Homo sapiens: one gene and its partners. The protein of the gene in region 1 purifies or fractionates together with the protein of each later gene. This does not show direct contact. Each region holds a gene or a part of one and is shown on either strand. Other genes may lie near its edges. The genes, in order: OR6T1, UBQLN4, GUCY1B1, ESYT1, TSPAN10, FNDC3B and SLC12A4.

The links.
Region 2: the proteins of OR6T1 (region 1) and UBQLN4 purify together in Homo sapiens (affinity purification with mass spectrometry; one large-scale study listed by BioGRID and IntAct). This does not show direct contact.
Region 3: the proteins of OR6T1 (region 1) and GUCY1B1 purify together in Homo sapiens (affinity purification with mass spectrometry; one large-scale study listed by BioGRID and IntAct). This does not show direct contact.
Region 4: the proteins of OR6T1 (region 1) and ESYT1 purify together in Homo sapiens (affinity purification with mass spectrometry; one large-scale study listed by BioGRID and IntAct). This does not show direct contact.
Region 5: the proteins of OR6T1 (region 1) and TSPAN10 purify together in Homo sapiens (affinity purification with mass spectrometry; one large-scale study listed by BioGRID and IntAct). This does not show direct contact.
Region 6: the proteins of OR6T1 (region 1) and FNDC3B purify together in Homo sapiens (affinity purification with mass spectrometry; one large-scale study listed by BioGRID and IntAct). This does not show direct contact.
Region 7: the proteins of OR6T1 (region 1) and SLC12A4 purify together in Homo sapiens (affinity purification with mass spectrometry; one large-scale study listed by BioGRID and IntAct). This does not show direct contact.

Annotation. Positions count from the first base shown.
Region 1 is NC_000011.10:123,942,034-123,945,497, forward strand, and holds OR6T1 (olfactory receptor 6T1), read right to left. Parts: upstream 1,806-3,464; coding exon 834-1,805; downstream 1-833. UniProt on the Homo sapiens protein: Odorant receptor.
Region 2 is NC_000001.11:156,036,799-156,040,298, reverse strand, and holds part of UBQLN4 (ubiquilin-4), read left to right. Parts: intron 1-3,168; coding exon 3,169-3,321; 3' UTR 3,322-3,500. UniProt on the Homo sapiens protein: Regulator of protein degradation that mediates the proteasomal targeting of misfolded, mislocalized or accumulated proteins.
Region 3 is NC_000004.12:155,803,854-155,808,760, forward strand, and holds the end of GUCY1B1 (guanylate cyclase soluble subunit beta-1), read left to right. Parts: intron 1-739; coding exon 740-894; intron 895-1,249; coding exon 1,250-1,376; intron 1,377-2,532; coding exon 2,533-2,556; 3' UTR 2,557-3,958; downstream 3,959-4,907. UniProt on the Homo sapiens protein: Mediates responses to nitric oxide (NO) by catalyzing the biosynthesis of the signaling molecule cGMP.
Region 4 is NC_000012.12:56,134,604-56,138,719, reverse strand, and holds part of ESYT1 (extended synaptotagmin-1), read right to left. Parts: intron 1,977-4,116; coding exon 1,827-1,976; intron 1,503-1,826; coding exon 1,347-1,502; intron 1,222-1,346; coding exon 1,045-1,221; intron 889-1,044; coding exon 806-888; intron 695-805; coding exon 646-694; intron 538-645; coding exon 448-537; intron 317-447; coding exon 221-316; intron 1-220. UniProt on the Homo sapiens protein: Binds calcium (via the C2 domains) and translocates to sites of contact between the endoplasmic reticulum and the cell membrane in response to increased cytosolic calcium levels.
Region 5 is NC_000017.11:81,640,040-81,644,155, reverse strand, and holds part of TSPAN10 (tetraspanin-10), read right to left. Parts: intron 1,897-4,116; exon of another isoform or gene 1,850-1,896; 5' UTR 1,744-1,849; coding exon 1,708-1,743; intron 1-1,707. UniProt on the Homo sapiens protein: Part of TspanC8 subgroup, composed of 6 members that interact with the transmembrane metalloprotease ADAM10.
Region 6 is NC_000003.12:172,346,695-172,350,810, reverse strand, and holds part of FNDC3B (fibronectin type III domain-containing protein 3B), read right to left. Parts: intron 3,600-4,116; coding exon 3,450-3,599; intron 1-3,449. UniProt on the Homo sapiens protein: May be a positive regulator of adipogenesis.
Region 7 is NC_000016.10:67,947,885-67,952,000, reverse strand, and holds part of SLC12A4 (solute carrier family 12 member 4), read left to right. Parts: coding exon 1-178; intron 179-696; coding exon 697-861; intron 862-940; coding exon 941-1,039; intron 1,040-1,289; coding exon 1,290-1,347; intron 1,348-1,507; coding exon 1,508-1,682; intron 1,683-2,082; coding exon 2,083-2,201; intron 2,202-3,841; coding exon 3,842-3,940; intron 3,941-4,116. UniProt on the Homo sapiens protein: Mediates electroneutral potassium-chloride cotransport when activated by cell swelling. May contribute to cell volume homeostasis in single cells. May be involved in the regulation of basolateral Cl(-) exit in NaCl absorbing epithelia.

The DNA of each region.
Region 1 (3,464 bases):
TTACTATCGAGTTTGTACACAGCCTGACCCTGCGCTAACACTCCCCTAAAAGTGCATGTCTCTTTAAAATTTGTTCTGTAGACATCTTCCTTGGCTCACCCTAGTTGGAGCCTTGCCATATTAGAGATTTAATAATATTTCTTAAAGGAATGATTAAATGAGTGTTGCCATATTTCAGTTTGTTGCCATATTTGAGTTTGTTAGTAGAGTTTGACTTAGGAATTAGGGCTATCCAAATATTTCACTGGTCTTAACATTCTTCCTTTATGAGATTCCTATAGGAGCTGCTAGTTACATAAGGAGCAATAACAAATGCAAATCAGAGAACCATTTATTACTGCAGCCAGAATTTGATTTTCTAATAATACAGAGGTTCTGGTTAATTTTATTTGCAGTACCCAGTCTAGTTGGAAGACCTCAGAGACCCTCTTACTCCCCACTGAGCTCCAAATCTGAATCTCCATATTTCAGCATCTTCTGATTGGCTACATGACACAGGAGACTGAGGCAGTAAGAAAAGTGTTTAAGCACACACGAAGAGAAGGAGGAGCCTCCCTGTATGCGGGTCACGTGCTCACACATGCTCTCCAATCCAAGGATTCCATCTTGAAAGAAATTTGACCAATTGGATCAGCCTTCTCTGTGGGGAGGAGGAGGCACAAGGAAGGTTGTAGGGAGGGAAAATGAAGGTTTACCACCGTATTTCATGTTGTATATTTATGAAGACTGTTCTTTCATTAGCTGAGAAAAGTGAACAGTGTTGCCTACATCCCTTAAACTTCTTGCACATTTAAAAAATTTTCAATAAACATTTAATCTCCCATTTAATAAGATCATTTCCTTTGACTTGTGACCCTCAGTTTCATCACAGCAGTGAGCCTGGGCCACCCCAAGGCTTCTCTCAGTGCTTGCTGCACCTTGTCATTGCGGAGAGTGAAGATGAATGGGTTCAAGAGGGGTGTGATGATGCAGCTCAGGACGGAGGCACCTTTGTTGAGCAGTTTGGACTGAGCCTCTGACATACGAATGTAGAGAAAGATGGAACTGCCATAGATGATGACCACCACTGTAAGATGCGAGGCGCAAGTGGAAAACGCTTTCCTTCGCTCAGCAGCTGTAGGGGCCCTGAGAACAGTGGCAAGAATGCAGGCATAGGAAACTGAGGTCAGAGCCAGTGAGCCCAGTAACACCAACGTAGAGAGCATGAAAGCCACCAGTTTCAGCAGGTGGGTGTCCCCACAAGAAAGCCTGAGCAAGGGCCAACTGTCACGAAAGAAGTGGTCAATACCATTGGGGCCACAGAAAGGCAGGCTGGCCATGAGGACAGTGGGGCAAAGGACCCAGAGGAATCCAGCTAGCCAGGAGGCCAGCACTAGTTGGGAACAGACATGGCCATTCATCAGGGTCTCATAGCGGAGTGGTCGGCAGATTGCCAGGTAACGATCCAGAGACATGACGGCCAAGAGGAAGAAGTCAGTGGTGCCTAGAAAGAAGTAGAGGTAGGACTGGATGATGCAGCTGACAAATGAGATGGTGTGATCCCCCGTGAGGATGACGACAAGCATCTTGGGAACCACAACAGTTACCAGCAACAGCTCCAGGAAGGAGAAATTCCGCAGGAAGAAGTACATCTGTATGTGCAGGCGTTGGTCTATCCAGCTGAGCACAATAATTAGCAGCTTGCCTGTGGCTGTTACAATGTAGGTCACCATTAACCCCAGGAACACCAGGAACTGTATGAGGTGGCTACTGGGGAAACCCAGAAGGACAAAGCTTGTTACCTGAGTCCAGTTTTCAGGGTTCATCTTCAGTCACCTGCAGGGGAAATGAAACAGAACTCTGTAACTGGTCTATAGCTACCAATCATCATTTAACCAATCGGTAAAATAATATTGAACACCCAACACTTCCTTACATTCTGAGAATATGTTGATCTATAGTTTGGTCTGCACGTGACTTACAAAGAGAGAAACAAATTACAATAGTAAGCAGCATGGCAATATTGAACATCAATTATATATCTGAAAATTTACACGGTGCACAGTATCTCTTCTCCTAGCTACTCTTAAAACTATGTTTTACTATTTTCAAAGATAAGAAAAGGATGACGAAGGGAGTTTAAGTGACTCTTCTATGATCAGGTAGGAAACAGGTGGTAGAGGCAGGATTTCATACTGAGCTTCTGTGACTCCAGCACATGCTGCTGATACTGTTGAGCTCAGGCAGAGAACCGTGTGAGTAGTGTGGCTTTAGACGAGTCCAGAGGAGTAGAGGGGTCAGAGAAGACTTCACAGAACAAATGCACCATGAACAAATTTTACTGGTATTAAGAACTCTCATTTTAGTGTTTATGGTCCTTCTGTGTCCTGGCTTGACATAAAATAACAGAATTTAAAAATCTGGGCTCTCGGTATACTCAGAGATTTAATTTTCATTAGTCAGCCATGAAGCCAAATAGGACCGGATTGTGCAAAGCCCAGTCCTGTCATAAAGTGTTATTTTTCTTTTTTCCCCCAATCCAGACTCCTGTAGAATGCTAGAAATCCTTCTTCCTTGTGGAATGCTTACTAGCTTCTCTTACCTTCAGCTTGCTCAATATTCTAATAGTATAAAATGAGGAATAAGGGAGAATGGTCTCAAAGGAGATGGTATATATCAACTTGCCTTCTCAACTTTTGCCTTAATTTGGAGATATGTTCATCTTGTCCTTGGAGCTTTTGGAATCCTGTAAAATGTATCCACATGTTTTGAAGGACTGGATTTCATTAGACAATTAGATATCTTGGGTTCTTTTTTTTTTTTTTAAACATCTAGCACCAAATACTCAGAATCACATAGATTTGGCCTAATCAGGGAAAATGGAAAATGTTCTAAGACAAAAAGAATGAAAATGAGCATCAAGTTACATTGTTTAATTGACAAGGAATGAAGTGTTGAGAGTTTAGACAGTTTAACTGAGGAATATCTATTACTTCAGACCAACAGTGTTAAAGACGAGGAGCACAGATATTTTCTCAATTCTGTCTGAAGCTACTTTAACAGATAGTATTGAACTGAGGCAAGAAATCCAGGTTTGAAGGATATTTCTGTTCTGTTTACATCAATTTTGGAAAGAATAAGTCTGGGATTTAAGTAGCTAAGTAATAATAATGCTTCATTCTGCTAGTCTAGGGCTTGTGTCTCCAAAATCAAAGAAATACCATAATAAAACCCAGCAAAGGAGGCCAGAGCACTGTTTCAGGATAACATAATCATTTCAGATAAGGAAAACATGCTACTGTGGCTATTTCCAAAGCTTTGGTTAAATATTATTAAAAGTAACTTATAAAGTCCGTCAAACACACAAAATCAGTTTCTGGCTACTGTGATAAAATACATGCACTAAAGTCTGTTCTCTAGCCTCTCTTTGTCAACCTGAATAACTGCTTATCAGTTCTGGAGAGCCTCATCAGTTGGCTGGCTGT
Region 2 (3,500 bases), on another chromosome or scaffold:
TCAACCTCCCGAGTAGCTGGGATTACAGGCACGCGCCACCACACCCGGCTAATTTTTTTGTATTGTTAGTAGAGATGGGGTTTCACCATGTTGTCCAGGCTGGTCTCGAACTCCTGACCTTAGGTGATCTGCCTGCCTCGGGCTCCCAAAGTGCTGGGATTATAGGCGTGAGCCACCACACCCGTCCAGAAAGGGCTTTTATACTGCAAGTCAGGGGGCCTTAGTGACTGACTTTCTCTGTGACCCCAGGCAAGTCCTGTCTTTTCTCTGGATCGAACATTGTTCCTTTCAACACCAGGTGGACGGTGCTTGCTGGACTCTTTCTAGCTATAAGAGTCTTTTTTTTTTTTTTTTTTTTTTTTGAGACGGAGTCTCGCTCTGTCGCCCAGGCTGGAGTGCAGTGGCCGGATCTCAGCTCACTGCAAGCTCCGCCTCCTGGGTTTAGGCCATTCTCCTGCCTCAGCCTCCCGAGTAGCTGGGACTAAAGGCGCCCACCACCACGCCCGGCTAATTTTTTGTATTTTTAGTAGAGACGGGGTTTCACCATGTTAGCCAGGATGGTCTCGATCGCCTGACCTCGTGATCCACCTGCCTCGGTCTCCCAAAGTGCTGGGATTACTGGCGTCAGCCACCGCACCCGGCCACTATAAGAGTCTTTTGTTCATAATCAAGGCTTGTGCTTTCCAAATACCCCTTGGGCAAACATTTACAGGAGATAATTAGAGGAATGACAAGAATGAAAAGCCAAGCTAGCCAGGCGGTGGCTCACTTCTGTAATCCCAGCAATTTGGGAGGCCGAGGCAGGCAGATCACCTGAGGTCAGGAGTTCAAGACCAGCCTGACCAACGTGGAGAAACCCCGTCTCTACTAAAAATACAAAATTAGCTGGGTGTCGTGGCGCATGCCTATCATCCCAGCTACTCGAGAGGTTGAGGCAGGAGAGTCACTTGAACCTGGGAGGCAGAGGTTGTAGTGAGCTGAGATCGTGCCATTTTACTCCAGCCTGGGCAACAAGAGTGAAACTCCATCTCAAAAAAAAAAAAAAAAAAAAAAGCCAGGCCAGGAGTGTGGCTCATGCCTGTAATCCCAGTGCTTTGGGAGGCCAAGGCAGGGGACTGCTTGAGGCCAGGAGTTCGAGACCAGCCTGGGCAACGCGGGGAGACCCAGTCTGTAAAAATTTTTTTCTTTTAAAAAAAGTCTTAGTGCAAGCTGGGCATGGTGGCTCATGCCTGTAATCCCAACATTTTGGGAGGCCAAGGCGGGTGTATCACTTGAGGCCAGGAGTTCAAAACCCACCTGGCCAACATGGTGAAACCACGTCTCTACTAAAAATACAAAAATTAGCCGGGCTTGGTGGCATGCACCTGTAATCCCAGCTATTCAGGAGGCTGAGGCAAGAGAATCGCTTCAACCCGGGAGGCAGATCATGCCACTGCATCCAGCCTGGGTGACAGAGCGAGACTCCGTCTCAAAAAAAAAAAAAAAAGAAGAAGACCTAGTGCAGTGGCTCATGCCTGTAATCCCAGCAGTTAGAGAGGCCAAGGCAGGAGGATCACTTGAGACCAGCCTGGGCAACATAGCAAGACCCTTTCTCTGCTAAAAAAATTTTTTTCTTTATTTTTTATTTTATTTTTATTTTTTTGAGATGGAGTCTCACTCTGTCCCCCATGCTGGAGTGTTATGGCACAGTCTCGGCTCACTGCAACCTCCGCCTCCCGGGTTCAAGCGATTCTCCTGCCTCAGCCTCCTGAGTAGCTGAGACTACAGGCTCCTGTCACCATGCCCAACTAAGTTTTGTATCTTTAGTCTCGGGGTATCGCCATGTTGGCCAGTCTGGTCTCGAACTCCTGACCTCAAGTGATCCACCTGCCTCAGCCTCCCAAAGTGCTGGGATTACAGGCATGAGCCACCACGCACTTTTGTTTTTTTAAGATGTACTCTGTCTTCCAGGCTGGAGTGCAGTGGCGCAATTTCAGCTCACTGCACCTCCGCCTCCCGGATTCAAGTGATTCTTCTGCCTCAGCCTCCCAAGTAGTTGGGACTACAGGCATGCGCCACCACACCTGGGTAATTTTTTGTGTTTTTAGTAGACATGGGGTTTCGCCATGTTGGCCAGCCTGGTCTTGAACTCCTGACCTCAGGCAAACTGCCCATCTTGGCCTCCCAAAGTGCTGGGATTATAGGCATGAGCCACTATGCCCAGCCAAAAAAAAATTTTTTTTTAATTGGCTGGGCAAGGTGGTACACACCTGTAGCCCCAGCTACTCAGGAGGCTCAGAGAGAAGGATCACCTGAGCCCAGGAGATAGAGGCTGCAGTGAGCTATGATTCTGCCACTATATTCCAGCCTGGGTGCAAGACCCTGTCTCAAAAAAAAAGGAAATACTTCTCTTTTATAAATAACTGTTGATCAGTGAAACAAAATTAAATAGCTTCTTAACTGGGACCCTTCTCTAGCCTTTCATATGGCTGTACGTGTGATGACTATTAGGAGGGGCCTTGGAGGTCATGCTTAGTATGCATCTTATTTGACCATAGAACATTTGGCTTTTGGAGTGCCTGTTAACATCTCCAGTGTTTATGGAAAGTAATGAGGAATATATGCTGATCTAGGCCTATCAGTTATCTTGAAAATCTAAAAAAGATATCCGCCTGCCATATTATTACACAGTTTTGTTTGTTTGTTTTTTTGTTTTTGTTTTTTGAGACAGAGTCTCGCTCTGTTGCCCAGGCTGGAGTGCAGTGGCGCGATCTCGCCTCACTGCAAGCTCCGCCTCCCGGATTCACGCCATTCTCCTGCCTCAGCCTCCTGAGTAGCTGGGACTACAGGGCGCCCACCACCACACCCAGCGAATTTTTTGTATTTTTAGTAGAGATGGGGTTTCGCCGTGTTAGCCAGGATGGTCTCGATCTTCTGACCTCGTGATCCGCCCGCCTCAGCCTCCTAAAGTGCTGGGATTACAGGCGTGAGCCACCGTACCCGGCCATTACACAGTTATTTAGGACTTGGGACCTAGGCTCCTGGGCCCCCATTTGCAGCTCATCTTCCCTGCCCTCCTGATTGACTCTGAGGATATTAGAGAAGACCTGCTGGTCTTAGAAACCCTTAATTCAAATAGGGCCCCCAAGATTGGTCCTGTGCCCACTTCACAAGGCCTGTCCCCTCCAGGTGCAGACGCCAGAAGTGAGATTTCAGCAGCAGCTGGAGCAGCTCAACTCCATGGGCTTCATCAATCGTGAGGCTAACCTGCAGGCCCTGATTGCCACAGGAGGGGACATCAACGCAGCTATCGAGAGACTGCTGGGCTCCCAGCTCTCCTAATCCCTCGGCCCATGCCTCCTGCCTCTCCCCTCCCTCGATGTCAGCATTCGGTTCTTCTGTCAATCCTTACCCTCTGCAGCTTGTCCTCCCTTCCGTCTTCTCCCTCATCCTTTCCAAACAGCAGGGTGACTTTAGAGGCATGGGCTCCAACCCCTTAGCTCTGTCTGAGAATTATGGTT
Region 3 (4,907 bases), on another chromosome or scaffold:
TATAAAGAAGGGCATCTTGACAACAAAGACTATAGCATTTCATCCAGCCCACTGTACTACATTCTTTCATAGACATGGAGATTTATCTACCTGTTTGAAATTATCTAGTCCGTTTCATGTACTGAAAGTCATGGGGATGAGAAAAAAACCTCTTGTACCTTCTAGTTTATTTTTTAAAACCTCTTTCATGTCTCATGTAAGTTACTAGATTCACATCTTTGAAATCTTCAGACTTCAAATGTTTCTCTTGAGATAGGATATTTCCCTGGGGAGATAGAGATTTCATGGAGGGCTTTTGAAGTTGTCCATAATATGCTTGAAATTCTTATAGACATCTCTTACGATGTTATATGATGACTCTACATTATTCTGTAATATAAAGTAAGCAAAAATTCATGTGTTACAGGAACAGAAAACCAAACACCACATGTTCTCACTCATAAGTTGGAGCTGAACAATGAGAACACATGGACACAAGGAGGGGAACATCACACACCGGGACCTGTTGGGAGTTTGGGGGCAAGGGGAGGGAGAGCATTAGGACAAATACCTAATACGTGCGGGGCTTAAAACCTAGATAATGGGTTGATAGGTGCAGCAAACCACCATGGCACATATATACCTATGTAACAAACCTGCACCTTCTGCACCTGTATGCCAGAACTTAAAGTAAAATAAAAAAAAAAAAATTCATGTGTTAGTGATCAAAATGATTGAAGCAAAGCTTTCTTTTTTGCAGATAACAATAGGGATACACACTGGAGAGGTAGTTACAGGTGTCATAGGACAGCGGATGCCTCGATACTGTCTTTTTGGGAATACTGTCAACCTCACAAGCCGAACAGAAACCACAGGAGAAAAGGGAAAAATAAATGTGTCTGAATATACATACAGGTGAGAGAAAATGTCTTGGTATTTACTGATTTGCAAAGAAAATGTGTCTTTGCATGTGGTTTAATTCTCTGAGAGATTTTGTTGCTTTAACAGAGTTATCACCTTCACTCTTCCCCACTGCTTGTAGAGTTGTTTACTTTTTATTTGAGAAGATTGTGTCATTATTTCCATTTTATATGATTTCACATCATCTTAGGAAATCCTGATATGATCATTGTTTCTAAAGCTTTGAGTTACCTTTCAGTACAACTTCAGCATTTGTTCTTGCCATCTTGGTTTATAACATGATACATGTCACCTTCTCTATAAAACTTGTGTATACTTCTCTCTCTACTCCCCTTCCCTTGTCTTTTAGATGTCTTATGTCTCCAGAAAATTCAGATCCACAATTCCACTTGGAGCACAGAGGCCCAGTGTCCATGAAGGGCAAAAAAGAACCAATGCAAGTTTGGTTTCTATCCAGAAAAAATACAGGAACAGAGGTATGACTAATCAAAGTGTAATTTGCGTACTTAAGACAGAGTATAAGTATGGAAAACTAAAGCAAAATCACTGAAAATGTATTTCATTTGAAAAGAATTCTTGCTAACAGAAATTAACTTCTAAGTAAAGCAGTGGAAATAATTGAACATTAATGAGCCAATTACAATCATAAGTACTTTTTAGGGGATACTTTAGTGATTTTTGTCCTCTAATGAAATGAAAACCAACAGACTGGATTGAGAAGGCTGCTTTTTTTCTTGCTGTTGTGGTTGTTTTGCTCTTCCTCTGTAGTCTGGCTCAAAGGTAAGTGGGCTGTGAGGGGCTCCCCTGACCCCTTTCCTCAGCTCTCTAAGTTGGCTCTGAGATCACCACAGATAAGGGCTGTGGTTCATGGGAGGTTTCTTAACCATGAAGCTTAAGATCCTTTTAAGGGGCAGGCTATCTTTCTATGGAGTGATTGGGGAATTTTGGAAATCCTAGTCCCTCATGTGTTTCTCCTAGATAGATGAGTGATTTTTAACTTGCTAGAATCTGATTAATTCCTTAGGGAAGATTTAAGTTCTTTCTACTACTATGGTTATACTCCAGGCAGAGCCCATGTGCTAGAATGGACTTCAGAACAGTGGCACATCCAAAGTGGAATCACACCTCTCATAGAGGCCTTGCACACACTAAGATCATGGCTAGCCTCTTCCTAGCCTTTTGTAAGGAGTGGCATCAGAAGCAAGTTTGATACTTTGTTACCCTGTTGATGTGTTGTTTCCTCATGGGGGATAAGACTGCATGCTCATATTTCTCTTTTAGTGTGTATAAACTCTCTAAAGATGCTTTTAGGGCATAACAACTTCTAAAGGGAATAGAATGCCAGGGTTTGAAATATTTATCTTCTTTCACCTGGTTTAACATTAAATCATTTTCCTATGAGGTGGACATGCTTATTGATGTTCTTCTGATAAACTAAGCCGTAATTACCTCAAACATTGGTCATCTTAGTCGTGCGGTCCTGTTTTTCCCAGAATTATGGTGGGAATGATTTACAGAAACTGTAGATGTGAACGTGGATCACACTCTCATAAAGAGAAAAATATATTTAATTGATATTATAAACCTCACTATCACTGTAAATCAATCCCTCTTTTCTTCTGCCTATTTAAGGAAACAAAGCAGGATGATGACTGAATCTTGGATTATGGGGTGAAGAGGAGTACAGACTAGGTTCCAGTTTTCTCCTAACACGTGCCAAGCCCAGGAGCAGTTCTTCCCTATGGATACAGATTTTCTTTTGTCCTTGTCCATTACCCCAAGACTTTCTTCTAGATATATCTCTCACTATCCGTTATTCAACCTTAGCTCTGCTTTCTATTACTTTTTAGGCTTTAGTATATTATCTAAAGTTTGGCTTTTGATGTGGATGATGTGAGCTTCATGTGTCTTAAAATCTACTACAAGCATTACCTAACATGGTGATCTGCAAGTAGTAGGCACCCAATAAATATTTGTTGAATTTAGTTAAATGAAACTGAACAGTGTTTGGCCATGTGTATATTTATATCATGTTTACCAAATCTGTTTAGTGTTCCACATATATGTATATGTATATTTTAATGACTATAATGTAATAAAGTTTATATCATGTTGGTGTATATCATTATAGAAATCATTTTCTAAAGGAGTGAATTCTAAGTTTTAGGGGAAAAAATGCAATTTATTTTCAGACTCCCAAAGTAAGAATTAACATATCATGCTAAGAAAATAGTGACTATTTTGAAGTATGCTACTTCCCTTTCAGAAATATAGAATACACGTTTCTGTTATTAAAGTATTTGATTACTAATTCAAATCATATGGCAATTATAATTCTTCTAAAATGCTATCATTTGTAACTGTATCCCCTGTATTAAATCTCATTAACCACAGGCAGCTGTTACAGAAAGCTGCATTGTTTCACATTGAGCTGTTACATTAGTTCAGGCTAAATGTTGGGAGCTCCAACCACATCCAAGAATAAATCTGGAAACACACTGCTGGGATACTGCTGTTAGAGCCCTTCTTGGCCTTGTATTCCCAGAAATGAGCTCCCTTTCCTTAGCTTAGAAGAATGTGATTATATCCAGGACATCATGTTCAGAAAACTTAGTTTACTTTCAGCATAGAATGCATTACTGTTGGAATAATTGGCCTCTAGCTCTTAAATGTCTCTGATAACTTATTAATATCTATCTTTATAAAATAGAGTGCAACTACTTTTGTGTAAAAATGTTTGCCTTTAAATTTAGTATTTCATATCAGCACATCGATATATGTATAAATGTTCCATGTTAATGTGTAAAAGAGTCTGTAATAAATTATTTTTTTCACGTGTCTCTATACAGTTTTTATTTCAATAAAAATATTAACATTATTTTTCATTTTATTAATGCCATTATTTTGTAAATACATTTTACAATTTTGCCTATTTGCTACCATTATAAATTTTCACTGACTCCTCATAGACAGCATATTCTTAAATGCTATATTTCTTTTTAATACCAACAGAGTGACAGGAAATAAAGACTGGGCATGGAAAGGGGAAACAGTTAAATATTGAATGTCATCAGCTTATTTAAAGAGCTCTGAATCATTTAGGGATGATAGACATGTATACAAGTAATGAAAATATGCGATATTCATAATGAAGAAATATATTCAAATGCAGAAATAATACTTAGAGAAAGAGTAACTTGAAAGAAAAGAGGTGAAGTGGGGATAGTTGTTATGCTTATTTTGGGGGGAGAGTTAGGAATACTCAGAAACTACATTGACACTGTCATCTTCCCAGAATCCTGCATATATTTATTTAGCATCTACTTTGGGTAGGTACTGCTCAAGATATTTGAGAAATGTCATTGAACAAAACATCTCTGCCTTTGAATACCTCATATTCCAATTTTTACATCTTGCATGTTTTTAAATCTCTACTTTATTCCGCCAACACTCTTCGAAGTCCAGGCACTCATCATGTGTAACTTGAACAATTGCAAGATCTTCCCTATAAATCTGTCTATTTCCTACCTTTGCCACCTCCATTCCACACTCTCAAATTGCTGCCAGAGTGGTCTTTTACAAATCCAAATTGCTCTCCTGCGTACAATCACTTAAATGCTACTCATTGTCTGTACACCTTAGCAAAGCATGTAAACATTGTCACCTTAACCAGCCTTATCTGCTAGTTGCTACCTTTGTAATTCTATGCTCTGCTCTGTCTGAATACCCTCTACCCATACTCTGCTGCAAATTCATTTCTTGCTAAGACTCAGCTCAATATCCTCTTGTTGGAAATTTCCCTGTTAGGAAAGTTTAGCTTCCCCTATTGTCCCAGGATCTTTACAATGGTTCACATATTATCTGTTTATATATAGGATTCCTTATTAGGCTTTAAGTTTCTTATGGCTAAATTAGTTCCTCTTACACCAGATATTCCTTGAACCTTCCACAAAATAGGCACTTGACAAATATTTGTTGAACAAAGGAATGGAGGGAGCAGCCTCTTC
Region 4 (4,116 bases), on another chromosome or scaffold:
GATCCCCCTCACAAATTATATCCACAGCCAGCAGCCATGTCTCCATTATTACTTGGCAGCCACTACCCGTGGCCTTGAACAGACAACTTTTCCCACCCCTGCACTACCCTCAGAAAGAGAGGGGCCATTTTTCTTATTCTAAATACTCCAGGACCATCCAAACCGGAGGAAGGTGGAAGAAGGGCCAGGAAGTTATGGGGCATGGGGAGCGGGATCTCACCGGGAGGTCCTCTGCCCGCTCCATATAGATGGATAGCAGGGCCGCAGCCAGCTCCGCACTCTTCTGAGTCTGGATCAAACTATTCACCTGCAGCACCTGTGGAGGGGCACACGGGGCTGGGGAGTGGTAACTGACACCTTGGGTTCTGGCATGTGCCTTGAACGCTAAGAGAAGAGCTCATCCTGCCCCACCTTGGGTCCCTTCCTTCCTCAAGTCTCCTGCCCTACCTCCTCTAACTCAGCAGCAGTGGGACGGGGGGTGAGACGCTCCAGGCGCAAGTGCAGGCGGCCAGATGGGACATCCTCCAGGGTCAGCCACTGTGGAAGTAGGCAGGGTGAAGACTTGGGGATATGCAGACAGGAGAACTTTGAGAATGAAGCTTGGGCAGGATCAGGAGGGGTTGTTGACTCTAATTCAATGCTCACCTCATCAAGGAAGCCACTGTTTAAGACTGTGGTGAGACGCACTTTACACCTGTTGAAGAGAAAGATTAAGACAAAAGCTAGATGGTGAGAACCAAGGAGGCCAGACTCCATGGCCTAAAGAGCCCCAGCCTGTTTTTCACGTAGACTCCTATGCTCTCACCTGCCCAGAAAATCATCCTTGTCCAAGTCCTTGTCAAAGACTTCAACCTCTAGCTCTTGGCCTGGAACTGATGTGACGATCACCTAGTGGGAGAAAATAGTGCAGATGAAAGATTCTCTCCTTTTCCTCTGCAAATGACTGGACCCCCCAGTCAACTGAACCTCAGAGGTTTCTGGACCACTTTTGGGATTGGGGGAAAAATGGGGCAGAACCAGGAGTCACAGCCACTCAATTCTGACCTCAAAAACCTCATTCCAGCGGGGATTGAGATCTTCCCGAACAACATGGCTCCGGAAGCTTCGTCCTGCCAACTTTAGTTTGACATAGGGGTCTGACTTGCCCTTCACCAGTCCCCCCAAGAAACGGTCTTTGGCAATCAGGTCCTGGGCCTCTAATACATGGATCCGAAGCACATGCTGCAAAAGGGACGGGGGGGTGCCAGATGGCAAAGGGAGAGAGACCTGTCAGAATCTGCCCTGAAACAGGCTTTGCATACTTAGCGGGGCAAACAGACCCTAGTCCTTTCCAGATATAGACTCACCTCAGTCCCAAACTGGCTATCAGGAGTCGTGTGACAGGGTCGAGGTGGGGCATCCACACTGCTGCCTCTCTGGGGATTCTCACTGTCCACGTCCCAAGCACCAGGACAACCAGGCACCGTGGGGAAGCATATTTCTGATGAATCCAAGTACAGGATCTAGGAAGGGTAGTATGATGCTGAATCAAAGAAGTGCAGCTCGTCACCAGCAGGCAAAGCATGTGGGGTGGGGTAGAGGAGGGGCTGTGACAGGGGAACTAGGTGCTGCCCTGGCTGGGCTCATCTCTACAGGGTTCCCTCCACACCCCCTCAACTCATAAGCCATTCCTTCCACCAGTCAGATCAATATATGTTTTTGTGCCTGCTTGGCACTTCTACATGTATTAGCTCTTTTAATCTTAGGGGGGTCCCTTTCCTTACTCTTAATACCAAAGAATCAACAGGCCTTTCCCCCACACCTCAGTACCTCCTCTATTTCCATACCCTCATGACTAGTTTCATATAGAGTCTGGAGTTTGGACCAGAGCTGCTGAGCTGGAACCACTGGTCCAGGATGAGTTCTGGGGCAGTCAGCAGGCGGGCCAGAGGCAGCGTCAGTGCTCCTAAAGTCAGGGCCCTGGAATCATCCTTCACCTACAGGCACAGGAGGAAGGACTGTAGTGAAGGGATTAGGGGAAAGGGAGGCATACTGTGAAAATGATAACATGGCTCCAACTTCATTCCTCTCTGTACCAATCACAAACCTCCTGCTCCACTCAGGGCCATCTTTTTTTTTTTTTTTTTTTTGAGACAGAGTCTCACTCTGTCGCCCATGCTGGAGTGCAATGGCGCCATCTTGGCTCACTGCAACTTCGACCTCCTGGGTTCAACCCATTCTCCTACCTCAGCCTCCCAAATAGCTGGGACTACAGGCGCATGCCGTCACGCCCAGCTAAATTTTTGTATTTTTTAGTAGAGACAGGGTTTCATGGTGTTCCCCAGGCTGGTCTCAAACTCCTGAGCTCAGGCAATCCGCCCACCTCGGCCAGAGCCATCTTTTATAGTCCTCTGCCCAATCCATGGCCCCTTCCACCTTTGTTCATTCTGCTCCCACTATTTGGAAAGTCCTCATTCTCTTCCCTCGGCCTATTTAAATCCTACTCATCCTTCAAGACTCAATTAAAATCCAATTTTTTGCTTCACAAAATCTCCCTAGTTACTCCAGCCTATCCCTTTCTCTGACCCTCCTTAGTCCTATACTATGGATATTTTACTCCCACAAATTCATATGTAATTGTTGCTATTCTTCTGTTCCTTTTTTTTTTTTTTTTTTTTTTGGAGACAGAGTCTTGCTCTGTCACCCAGGCTAGAGTGCAGTGCTTGAAATCAGCTCACTACAACTTCTACCTCCCGGGTTCAAATGATTCTTCTGCCTCAGCCTCCCAAGTAGCTGGGATTACTGACACATGCCACCACACCTGGCAAATTTTTGATTTTTTTTTTTTTTTTGAGACGGAGTCTCACTCTGTCACCCAGGCTGGAGTGCAGTGACGCTATCTTGGCTCACTGCAACCTCCGCCTCCCGGACTCAAGCAATTCTACCTCAGCCTCCCAAGTAGCTGGGATTACAGGCACGCACCACCATGCCTGGCTAATTTTTGTATTTTTAGTAGAGATAGGGTTTCACCATGCTGACCAGGCTATTCTCAAACTCCTGACCTCAGGTGATCCACCTGCCTTGGCCTCCCAAAGTGCTAGGATTACAGGTGTGAGCCACCATGCCTGGCCTTAGTTCATATGTACTTGTTCTTGAATGATTTTATATGTGTATGTCTTGTCTATGAAACTGAAACTGGCCAGTGAGTATTGTGAAGGCAGATACTATGTTTTGTGCTTTTTCTATGACCTTTAAAATGCTGAATGTTGGGCCGGGCACGGTGGCTCACGCCTGTAATCCAAGCACTTTGGGAGGCTGAGACGGGCGGATCACCTGAGGTTGGGAGTTCGAGACCAGCCTGACCAACATGGAGAAACCCCGTCTCTACTAAAAATACAAAAAAAATTAGCCAGGCATGGTGGCACATCCCTGTAATCCCAGCTACTCAGGAGGCTGAGGCAGGAGAATCACTTGAACCCAGGAGGTGGAGGTTGCGGTGAGCCGAGACCACGCCATTGCACTCCAGCCTGGGCAACAAAAGCGAAACTGTCTCAAAAAAAAAAAATGCTGAATGTTAGCAATTTTATTGAGGCATAATTTACATACCATAAAATCACTCATTTTAGGTACCGTGCCCAGCCTCAGAATAATTTTTGTATACCTAAAATGAGTGATTCTATGGTATGTAAATTATGCCTCAATAAAATTGTTAACATTCAGCATTTTAAAGGTCATGGAGAAAGCACGAAACATAGCATCTGCTTTCACAATGCTTACTGGCCAGTTTCATAGACAAGACACACATATATAAAATCATTCAAGAACAAGTACCTATGAACTAAGGCCAGGTGCAGTGGCTCATGCCTATAATCCCAGCACTTTGGGAGGCTGAGGCAGGCGGATCATCTGAGGTCAGGAGTTCGAGACCAGCCTGGCCAGCATGGTGAAACCCTGTCTCTACTAAAAATACAAAAATTAGCCGGGCATGGTGGTGCCTGCCTGTAATCCCAGCTACTCGGGAGGCTGAGGCAGGAGAATTGCTTGAACCCAGGTGGTGGAGGTTTCGGTAAGCCGAGATCGCACCACTGCACCCCAGCCTGGGCAACAGAGCGAGACTCCATCTCAAAAAAAAAAAAA
Region 5 (4,116 bases), on another chromosome or scaffold:
ATGGCCGGGCTGGACGTTGTGGCTCACGCCTGTCATCCCAGCACTTTGGGAGGCTGAGGTGGGTGGATCACCTGAGGTCGGGAATTCGAGACCAGCCTGAGCAACGTGGAGAAACCTCATCTCTACTAAAAAAAAAAAAAAAAAAAAAATTAGCCGGGCGTGGTGGCACACACCTGTAATCCCAGCTACTTGGGAGGCTGAGGCAGGAGAATCGCTTGAACCCAGGAGGTGGAGGTTGCATGAGCAGGAGGCAGAGGTTGCATGAGCAGAGATCGCGTGACTGCACTCCAGCCTGGGTGACAGAGCGAGACTCCATCTCAAAAACTAAATAAATAATAAAAAGCAGCCATGGCTGTGTGCTGGGCAAGGATCCCATTCCAATCCAGTTTCACCAGGAAGAAGCTGATCACAGCATCAGGCTCTCAGCTCACTGCAGCCTCAAACTCCTGGGCTCAAGCCATCCTTCCTCCTCAGCCTCCTGAGTAGCTGGGACTACAGGCACTGCAACCATGTCCTGGTAATTTTTTTTTTTTTTTTTTTTTTTTGAGACGGAGTCTCGCTCTGTCGCCCAGGCTGGAGTGCAGTGGCGGGATCTCGGCTCACTGCAAGCTCCGCCTCCCGGGTTCACGCCATTCTCCTGCCTCAGCCTCCCAAGTAGCTGGGACTACAGGCGCCCGCCACTACGCCCGGCTAATTTTTTGTATTTTTAGTAGAGACAGGGTTTCACCGTTTTAGCCGGGATGGTCTCGATCTCCTAACCTCGTGATCCGCCCGCCTCGGCCTCCCAAAGTGCTGGGATTACAGGCGTGAGCCACCGCGCCCGGCCGTCCCGGTAATTTTTTAAAATTATTTTTTGTAGGCCGGGCACGGTGGCTCATGCCTGTAATCCCAGCACTTTGGGAGGCCGAGGCGGGTGGATCACGAGGTCAGGAGATCGAGACCATCCTAGCCAACATGGTAAAACCCTGTCTCGACTAAAAAAAATTAGCTGGGTGTGGTGGCATGTGCCTGTAATCCCAGCTACTCAGCAGGCTGAGGCATGTGAATTGCTTGAACCGAGGAGGCGGAGGTTGCAGTGAGCCGAGGTTGTGCCACTGCACTCCAGCCTGGTGACAGAGCGAGACTCTATCTAAATATATATATATATATATATATATATAATATTTTGTAGAGACAGGGTCTCGCTACATTGCCCAGGCTGGTCTTGAACTCCTGGGCTCACGCAATCTTCCCTCCTCAGCCTCCCAAAGTGCTGGGATTACAGGAGTGAGCCACTGTGCCCGGCCCCAGAGGAGGGTTATTTATCACCCCCAAGACCTCAACAAGTCACTAGAAGCAAAAGGACAGGCTGTCAGTGCCTGGTTGGCCAGACTGGGGCCACTGGGGGCCAGAGGCCGTTGGAGGCTGGCTGCAAGGGACATTTGCCTTCACCCCCTCCTGCACCCTGAGCCAAAGATTGCCCCCAAGGCCCTCAGGGAGATCTGGCAGATCCCTTGACCAGAGGCCAGCATGGGGCTGAGAGAACTGCGCAGTGGGGAAGGGGGAGGGGGCTGCCTAGAACCACCCCCCTCAACCCAATCTCAGCATTGAGGTGTGGGGTGGCACCAGGGGCAGGGGTGGGTGTGAACCCAGCCCAGGGACTTCCCTTAGGACTTCAGGGCTGGGGACATCTCCAACCTCAGGGCAAGGCCACTTGGCATGGCTCACCTGGGACAGTAAGGGGCTCCTCTCCCCCTCCTCCATCCTTGACGCTGGAACAGAAAGCCCCCAGCACAGGCGCCGGGAGAGGTTCGCTGGCTCCTCTGTGGCTGGGCTGCTGGGCTGGTCCTGACTGCGGCCCTGGGCTAGTCTGTGAACAGTGCAGCCCTGGGCATGGGAATGGGGGAGGTGCGAGCCCTACCCAGATGCCGGAGTCACAGTTGAGTCATGTGAAGAATCACATTTTAGAGCTTAAGGAGGCCTCTGCTTGTGGAGATATATTTCTCCCCAGCCCTGGCTCTGTGGGTCCCCTAAGCTCAGCGCAGGTGTGACTCAGGCAGGCATGTTTGGGTGCCAGCCTTGTGGCTCTCACTGCAGCCCCCCATGCGGACTTCAGCTCTGCAGGGTCAGCAGCCGCTCCATCAGCTCCCAACCAGGGAATCAGACCCTGGTAAATTGGTTCACAACCCCAATCCCAAGAGACCCATGGGCAGCCCCAGCGCCAATCTATCCCCCGGCTTGTTCACTGCACGAATGAAACAGCGTCCCCCCACCAGATCACCTCCTTGTTTTTGTTTTTGAGACTGAGTTTCGCTCTTGTTGCCCAGGCTGGAGTGCAATGGCGCAATCTCGGCTCACTGCAACCTCGCCTCCCGGGACTACAGATGTACGCCACCTTGCCTCACTCATTTTTGAATTTTTTTTGTAGAGACAGGGTTCTGCTGTGCTGCCCAGGCTGGTCTTGAACCCCTGGACTCAAGTGATTCTCCTGCCTTGGCCTTCCAAAGTGCTGGGATTACAGGCTGGAGCCACTGTGCCCGGACTCAGCCACCAACACTCAGCAGTCCAAAGAGGTGGTCTGGGTGGTGCAGCACAGCAGGCAATGTACTGATGGAGCAGGCAGAGGGTTTCAGGCGCGCGTGAGACGCCTGGGTGGGAGCACACCGGGCAAGTTTTAGGAGGAAAGGTCACCTGGCTGTGTGGGGCAAGCGGAGATGGGGGTGGGAGGGAGGTCCATGAGGTGACAGGGCTGGATCAGGTGAGGCCTTGAAGGCCACTCTGAGTCTTCAGATCTTCCTCGGAGAAGTGGGATATGCTGCAGGTGGGAAGTCGGGGCGAGGACCAGAGCTGCAGGCTGAGCTTCTGGGCTCCAGCTTCCCTTCACCTCCCCAAAGGTGACAAACCCAACCTCATGGGCCCTGCAGCAGCTCCACAGCCAGGGTCACGGTCACAGGGACTGTCCACGGCCTCCAACTCAGTCTGTTCTAAGGATGGGTAACCTTTTTTTTTTTGAGACAAGAGTCTCGCTCTGTTGCTGAGGCTGGAATGCAGTGGCACGATTTTGACTCACCGCAACCTCTGCCTCCTGGGTTCAAGCGATGCTCCTGCCTTGGCCTCCTGAGTAACTAGGATTGCAGGCGCCACACCTGACTGATTTTGTATTTTTAGTAGAGATGGGGTTTCACCATGTTGGCCAGTCTGGTCTCGACCTCCTGACCTCAAGTGATCTGCCCGCCTCCTCCTCCCAAAGTGCTGGGATTACAGGCGTGAGCCACCACGCCCGGCCAAAGTCTGGGTAATCTTTTAATGAAACGATCATCATCTACCACTGTTATGGCTGAATTGTGCCCCTTACATTCTTATGATAAAGTTCTAGCCCCCCGGACCTCAGAATGGGACTTGGAGACAGGGCCTTTAAAGGCCATTAGGGGCTGGGCGCGGTAGCTCACACCTGTAATTCCAGCACTTAGGGAGGCCGAGGCAGGTGGATCATGAGGTCAGGAGATTGAGACCAGCCTGGCCAACATGGTGTGACCCTGTCTCTACTAAAAGTACAAAAAATTAGCTGGGCATCGTGGCGCATGCCTGTAATCCCAGCTACATGGGAGGCTGAGGCAGGGGAATTGCTGGGACCCAGGAGGCAGAGGTTGCAGTGAGCCGAGATGGTGCCGCTGCACTCCAGCCTGGTGACAGAGCAAGACTCCATCCCTAAATAAATAAATAAGTGCCATTAGCGTGGGCCCTAATCCAACATCCTTACAAGAAAATTGGGACACACGGTGGGACACATGGAGAGACACGAGGAATGTGTGCACAGAAGAAAAAACATGTGAGGTCTCGGGGAGAAGGTGCCATCTTCGAGCTAAGGAGAGAGGTATAAGAAGAAACCTGGCTGGGTACAGCGGCTTATGCCTGTAATCTAAGCACTTTGGGAGGCTGAGGTGGGTGGATTGATTGAACCTAGTAGTAGTTAGAGACCAGCCTGGGCAACATAGCAAGATCCCATCTCTACTAAAAATACAAAAAGTTAGCCAGGTGTGATTGTGAGCACTTGTGGTCCCAGCTACTGAGGAGGCTGAGGTGGGAGTATCACCTGAGCCTGGGAAGTCGAGGCTACAGTGAGCCACGATTGTGCCA
Region 6 (4,116 bases), on another chromosome or scaffold:
AATCTCAGCTCACTGCAACAACCTCTGCTTGCCAGGCTCAAGTGATCCTCCCACCTTAGCCTCCTGAGTAGCTGGAACCACAGGCACATACCACCACACCCAGCTAAGTTTGAGCTCTTAAATCAAGGTCTAAAACAAAACTTATAACTCCTTTGTTAATTTCAAAGAAGCAGGCTTAAAGCATTTATTTGCTATTAAATCACAGTTGAAACTCTACTGCAACATTTTGTCATACCCACTTCTGTTTCATTACAATACCTCAATACCTCAACTCTCTTTCTGGAAAAATTTTAACATGACAAATTATTTTATAAGTATGTATTTCGAGATTTTGGTACTGATATAAATGTATCACAGGGGCAGAAAAATAGGATATCATGGAGCCCAATGTTTCTATCAACTAGGGCTTTGTATCACCATATCACAGAAGGACAAGAACATGGCTTTTAAGAGTTGAAGCTTAGTTCAAACCTTGATTCCATCATTTAACAACTGTGTGATCTTAGGTTAGTTAATTTCTCTGAGCTTGTTTCCTCAGCTGTAAAATGGGGACAGTAATGCCTAATTCATAGAATTACAGTAAAGATTAAATCGGTTAATATGTAAAATGCTGGCAGAGTATCAGGCCAACAGTAGGAGCTACACTTTCTTCCTTCCCACTGGGAAAATTATGAACAAAATAGTATTTTCTCTATTTTTTCAAACACCTTTTTATTGTGTACTACTTTTATACTTACAGAAAAGTTGCAAAAATAGTACAGAGAAATTTCTGTCTATCTCCTACTCTGCTTTTCCGAAGAGAAACATGTTACAGAACTATAGAATAATGATCAAAACCAGGAAATTATCACTGGTGGCCGGGCACGGTGGCTCACACCTGGAATCCCAGCACTTTGCGAGGCTGAGGCGGGTGGATCATCTGAGGTCGGGAGTTCGAGACCAGCCTGGCCAACCTGGTGAAACCCCATCTCTACTAAAAATACAAAAATTAGTCAGGCGTGGTGGCAGGCGCCTGTAATCCCGGCTACTCGGGAGGCTGAGACAGGAGAATCGCTTGAACCTGTGAAGCGGAGGTTGCAGTGAGCCAAGATCGCGCCACTGCACTCCAGCCTGGGTGACAGAGCGTGACTCCATCTCAAAAAAAAGAAAAAAAAGAAAAGAAAAACATTATCACTGATACTATACTATTAACATACAGACCTAATCAGAATCTTACCAATTCTTCCAATGTTCTTTTTCTACTGCAGGATCCTACTTTCTTTTTAACTAGCTTGGCTCTATGGAAAACATTTCTTGATTTACACCACTTTTTATTAACAGTTTTCAAATGAAATTTAATTCAAAATCAACTTTTTGTAAATAATAGTATGCCTATAATATACAACATGCCCTATGAATGGAATTACGTTGGTACTTAATTAAAACAGTCCTGAAAATACAAAAATTCAAAAATTCCTGAGCAAAACAAGAAATGTTCCACCACATTTCTATAAAACACAGTACAGGTATTATAATAAATTTTTATTTTTTTGAGACAGGCTCTCACTCTGTCGCCCACGCTGGCCTACAGTGGTGCAGTCACAGGTCACTACAGCCTTGACCTGGCTCAAGTGATCCTCCTGCCTCAGGCTCCTGAGCAGCTGGGACTACAGATGCCTGGCTAATTTTTGTATTTTTTTTTTTTGTAGAGGAGGGGTTTTGTTATGTTGTCCAGGCTAGTCTCTATCTCCTGGCTCAAGAGATCAGCCGGCCTCAGCCTCCTACAGTGCTGGGATTACAAGTGTGAGCCCCCATGCCCGGCCAATATTTAAATTCTTAAGTGCCATATATTCAAAAAATATTGGGGTTTAACTTGACTTTGTAATCATGTTGAATGAAAATAATTCATATTTGGTCCACAAATAACAATAAATTGGTATAGTTTGAACAGACCCCCTTCCTGGCAATAGTCCTTTAGTGTGGCAATGGTAATCTTAAAAGTAGTACTCCCTTCATAAGATCTGACTCATTTTATTATAAATAAGCACAGACCTTTGAAAATATATTTCTACTCCTGTTAATACAACGAGGCAAGATTATGCAGGTACTATTCTTATTAATGTATCTTTTATAATGCAGCTTTGGGAAGTCAATGCTAAGACAACATAGACTCTGAAAGAGAAGGAGATATAATAACATTTTAAAGAAACACCAAAACTCAAAAACCATAATGGAGTGAAGCTCTTTACTGGGGTGGCAGACAGCTCTTTATTTATATCCTGCCTTGGTAGAAAAACAAGAGTGTGGCACATAATTTAACCTTTCCCCAGTGACTCAGCATCACTATTATAAATATCAGACAATTTGCTGTGACACTGACTCATTGTCAAAAGGTTAATTATGTCCCAGGTGCTTCATTCGAGAAGCAAGAAAGGTGTATAACAAAAGAGTTTAATCAGAAATGTTTCAAATACAGCAGACTTCTGAATTTAACAGAAATGCTTCAGTTGATCTGAAAAATTAAGTTATGAAGCGAATATTTTCTCCAAAGAGACCAGAGACATTGGGTGTACTTATAATAACGAATTTGATCCATGACTTAAATCAGGTGGGAACTTGACTTTGGCATCTTTGCTTCTTTATCTATTCAAATCTAAATGTGTATGAAGACAGAGCTCTTCAAGGTCAACAACCACATCTGATTAATCTTTGTATCTCTCTTCCTGATCTTCCTTTGATCCTGGTACAAAGTACTATAATGCTCAAGAAATGTTACTGAACAAATGGAAAGAGGAGGACAAAGAACTCTATTTTCTCAAGAGACTAAGGCTTTACACAGAAAAAATAATAATATAGCCAAGAGAGTAAAATAAAAGTAAACCCATGGTTATTGTCACTCTGAGGGGTTAGGCTATGAACCAATTTTTCTTGATGTTATTCTATCTGGACTCCCAAGTGGAAGCTTATAGATAACCAGCCTTGATAACCGTCACTGGGAGGTGGGAGGTGGGGTCCTGTAATCTAATGCAGACTAGTCCAGATTATTTTTGGCTCCATTTAACAGCTCGTAAAATAATTTTCTGTCTTTTACCAGTTCTAAGAGTCTTTCCCACTGAAATGTACATCTCAGGGGAATGAGACAGAAGGCTCCTTCCCTAAGGAGCTGTGTCATCTTTCCCTTGGACTTGGGTCATTTATTCAGCAAACTGATGAACAGACAAGATACAAGGGTGGTGAGAAGCAGAATGGAGAAGAATCTTATTTTGTTCTTAAGTTTCAGAATTTCCTAGAGAAGTGGAAATTAACTGCAAAACACCAAAACAACCAAATATATTTTTATTTAAATGGACTCTTTTTTTCCATATCATCCCTCCTGACAGCCTCCACCACAAGCCTTTGAGTGGGTTTCCCAAAGTGCCTTTCATGGGACAGCAGTCCTTGTGAGTAACATCTGAATAATGTCAACCTACCTGTAGTCTACAGCAATACTGTGCAGCAGGCAACAGGTCTCTTATTTCAAAACGGGTGTCTGTCCCATGATAAATGAGTTCTAAGGATTCTTCATCTTCTCCCCATTCCAACCTGTACTCTGAGATGTCAGCACCAGAACTATCAGGACTCTGGAAAGGCAGAAATGGAAGTAGTTAATAATGCCACTGAGAAGAGAATCCTACTGTGCTTGTATTCAATTAACTAAAATGGGAAAGAGAGCAACATGCCCCAGAATATTTCAAATACATATAAAAGAAAGGCACGATCACAAATATATATACCTACTATGTACCCACAAAATTTTTTTTGAGATTTAGAAATTTAAAAATAAAATAGGGCCAGGTGCGGCGGCTCATGCCTGTAATCCCAGCACTTTGGGAGGCTGAGGTGGGTGGATTGCCTAAGATAAGGAGTTCGAGACCAGCCTGGCCAACACAGTGAAACCCTATCTCTACTAAAAGTACAAAAACTAGCCAGGCATGGTGGTGGGCACCTGTAATCCCAGCTACTCAGGAGGCTGAGGCAGGAGAATCACTTGAACCAGGGAGGCAGAGGTTGCAGTGAGCCGAGATTGTGCCACTGCCCTCCAGCCTGGGTGACAAGATTGAAACTCTGTCACACAAAAAAATAAAATAAGTAAAATAA
Region 7 (4,116 bases), on another chromosome or scaffold:
CAGTTTGACATCTGTGCCAAGACAGCTGTAGTGGACAATGAGACAGTGGCCACCCAGCTATGGAGTTTCTTCTGCCACAGCCCCAACCTTACGACCGACTCCTGTGACCCCTACTTCATGCTCAACAATGTGACCGAGATCCCTGGCATCCCCGGGGCAGCTGCTGGTGTGCTCCAGGGTGGGTCCTCCCTCCCGTCGTCTTGCTCTTGAGCCCACAGGCTGAGCAGGGGCACAGAGCACAGAGCTGTCCTTGTGTGGCCAGCTTGGGAACGGGGGCAGGACTGGCCGCCTTCCCAGCCCCCCAGTGTCCTCCCAGCCTGGCTCCTGGCAGCCGAGTTTGGAGTGAGTGGAGCCTGTCTGGCCAGCGTCCAAGGCCTGCAGCAGCCTGTCTTCCCCAGCCACCAGCCCCTGACACTGCCTGGGGATGTTCCCACAGGATCCATAAAGGCCTCTGTGGAAGGCGGGCAGTGGCGGGCTCTGGGTGACGGTGGTTCAGCCACCTTTGTCTGTCGACTTCTAGCTGGGCAGCTCCTTCTCTGTGGTCAGGGTAGCCCTGTGGCTGACGCTGCAGTCATTGGGCTGAAGCTGTTCCCTGAGTCCCCAAAGTTGCCCTGCATCTGCGCCTCTGGCTAGGCTGCCCCAAACTACCTGGGGTAGTGGGGGGCAGCTGTGGTGGTGACACAGCTACCCCTGCAGAAAACCTGTGGAGCGCCTACCTGGAGAAGGGTGACATCGTGGAGAAGCATGGGCTGCCCTCCGCAGATGCCCCGAGCCTGAAGGAGAGCCTGCCTCTGTACGTGGTCGCTGACATCGCCACATCCTTCACCGTGCTGGTCGGCATCTTCTTCCCTTCTGTAACAGGTGAGCCCTGCCTGCCTACCCACCCAGCCCTGTCCCCAATCCCGGGGAGCCCCTGAGGGAGTCTCATCTGTTTTTGGAGGCATCATGGCTGGCTCAAACCGCTCTGGGGACCTTCGTGACGCCCAGAAGTCTATCCCTGTGGGGACCATTCTGGCCATCATTACAACTTCCCTCGTGTGTATCCTTTCCCAGGCCTGGGGCAGGTGGGGCAGAGGACGGGAAGCGCTTGGCCTGTGTACGTTGCCAGGTCACATGCACAGACACCCCACACACTCATATATAGCTCCCCTTCTCATGCACACATGCACATACACACCACGAGACTCCCAGCTGTAGGTGTCCTGGTAGTCTGGCTGGGGTGGGGGCACGTGGTACTATTCAGGGACAGTGGGGTGGCAGAGGCCGAGTTTTCCTTGACGCCGCCGCAGACTTCAGCAGTGTGGTTCTCTTTGGTGCCTGCATTGAGGGTGTGGTTCTCCGGGACAAGTGAGTGAGCTGGGCCCCCCTCTTTAGCAGCGGCTGGGCTTTGGCCTGCCCTCACACCAGCTCCCAACCCCGTGGGTGGTCCTAAGCCTGCTGGCTGCCTTTGGTGGTCTGTGCCATCCTTCCGGACCCCTGACATCCCTCACTCTGGTGGCCCCTGCAGGTATGGCGATGGTGTCAGCAGGAACTTGGTGGTGGGCACACTGGCCTGGCCTTCACCCTGGGTCATCGTCATCGGCTCCTTCTTTTCAACGTGTGGCGCTGGCCTCCAGAGCCTCACAGGGGCACCACGCCTATTGCAGGCCATTGCCAAGGACAACATCATCCCCTTCCTCCGGGTGAGCCCCTCTGCACTCCCCCATGGCCTGGCTGCTCCCAGGCCCTCGCCCGGCTGGGGAGAGAGATAGGGAACACAGATGCAGCACGTCCTGCCCTTATTGGCCCCCGGGGCCAGGCGGCCATCCATGAGGAGCTACTGAGAAGTGCCCTGGGCCTGGCACTCACCTGGGCCTGGAGCTGCCTGGACCCAGAATCTTCATGGCCTGTTTAGGGCTCATCCAAAGGAGAGAGGCCTGGTGAGGTGGAATCAGGGAGACTGGTGACACCCATAGGGATAGACACAGGGGCGGCCTGAGCCCCCAAGGCGGGCCCTGGGGGTGAGGGAGGCCAGGCTGGGGTCTGGGGCCCAAGGTGTGGAATGGGGGTGACAGGACCCAGCTTCCTTCCTGGTGCACACAGGTGTTTGGCCACGGGAAGGTGAATGGTGAACCCACATGGGCACTCCTCCTGACGGCACTCATCGCCGAGCTGGGCATCCTCATCGCCTCCCTCGACATGGTGGCCCCCATCTTATCCATGTGAGCTGGGGCCGGGCAGGGCAGGGGGATGGGGAAAGGCTTCCTGAACCCCAGCACCTCCCCGTGGCTGCGTCTGGTGTTGGAGGTCCAGCTGGGAGATGTGGCAGGCTGCATGGGGAGATGTGGCCTGACAGGGCTCAGCCCACCCCTGCATTTAGGAGCAAGCCTGGCACCTATGCCAAAGCTATAAGGTGACCAATATGTCCACACCTCCCTGAGGCCCCCAGAGCAGGTGGCCGGCAGACCTTCCCACTGGACAGGGCAACCACCGCGTCCCTCATGCCTCCATGAAGCCACTGCTGCCCCTTCCATCTGTTAGTTTGTTTTTTGGTTTTTGTTTTTTTTTTTTGAGACAGAGTCTCACTCTCTCACCCAGGCTGGAGTGCAATGGCATGATCTTGGCTCACTGCAATCTCCGCCTCCTGGGTTCAAGCAATTCTCCTGCCTCAGCCTCCTGAGTAGCTGGGATTACAGAAATGCACCACCACGCCCAGCTAATTTTTTGTATTTTTAGTAGAGATGGCGTTTTACCATCTTGGCCAGGCTGGTGTCGAACTCCTGACGTCAGATGATCCACCTGGCTCGGCCTCCCAAAGTGCTGGGATTACAGGCGTGAGCCACCATGCCCAACCCATCCATTTTCAAAGTCATTTGCTTTTAACATTCTGGAATCAGCCAGGCAAATCTGCGTGCCAGTGCCTTGCAGGGAGTGGCCAGCATGTGGTGACTCCCAGGGACCCCGAGGCAGCGCTTGTTTGGTTGACTCTGTCCAGGCTGGGGTCCTCGCCCACCCTGCTCCGTGGCTGACGCTCCTTCTTGCTTGTGCGGTTATGAAAGGCCTCCTCTTCCCTGCCCACTCAGCCTGCAGACTTGACAGGGGCCCTGTACCCCTGAGCAGGCTCCATCCCAGCTACAGCCAGGCCTGCTGGAGCCAGCACCCTCTTGTCCACCCCCCCACACCCCTTCCTCTCACCCAAGAGCACACCTGAAACTGTTTTGCCACAGCCATCTTGGGTGGTGACCCCCCTTGTGCCCAAATCAGAGGCTACATCTCAGCCTTTATCTCGGGCCTCCTGCTGGGAGCCCCTGCCCCCTGGCATGCCCTGTGTGGGTCCTCCTGCCTTCCTGCGCACCCGTCCTCGGGTGCCTTCCTGGAGGGCTCATGCAGCTGGCCCTGCCCATGCGTGGGACTCCCACGCCCACCGCAGTGACTCTTAAGTATCTCTGACTGGTTGCATTCAAATGGTCCAGCTTATCTTCCATCCTCCCCTTCATGCATGGCAGCCTCTCATCCAGCTGGTCACTCAGGCCAGAGGCCTGAATGTGGCCTAGAGTCTCCAGGCACTGAGCTCTTCCTGCTGCCCCTGCACCACCCTCTTCAGCTCTGCCCTGTTACTCCCCTTCCTACCTCCTCCAACAGCAAACCCTTGCCCATCCTCTGCGATCTGGCTCCGAGGACTCCTCCACAGTAGTCTCATTGCCTCAGGCCATGGAGGTGGCAGCAATGAGGTTGAGAAGACCTTGCTGAGCCATGCAGGGCAGGGCCGGGCCACGCCCCGTTTCTGGGCCAGGCCCAGCCTGACATCAGGTCCCCAGCTGCCGAGGAGGCTGCTCTTCGCCAACCGCCCTCTGTGCCGCAGGTTCTTTCTGATGTGCTACCTGTTCGTGAACCTCGCCTGTGCGGTGCAGACACTCCTGAGGACCCCCAACTGGCGGCCCCGGTTCAAGTACTATCACTGGTGAGCCATGCCTCTGACACGGGAGACCCTGGGGAGGCCAGGAGCCTCATTCTGGGTGAGGCTTGGGTTTCCTGGGTAGGGAGCTCTTGAAACACTGTGGGGAGGGAGATTATAGGGCTGCGGGGGACTGGACCTAGGTCTTACACCCAGTGACCTGACCACCCACCTGGGACCTC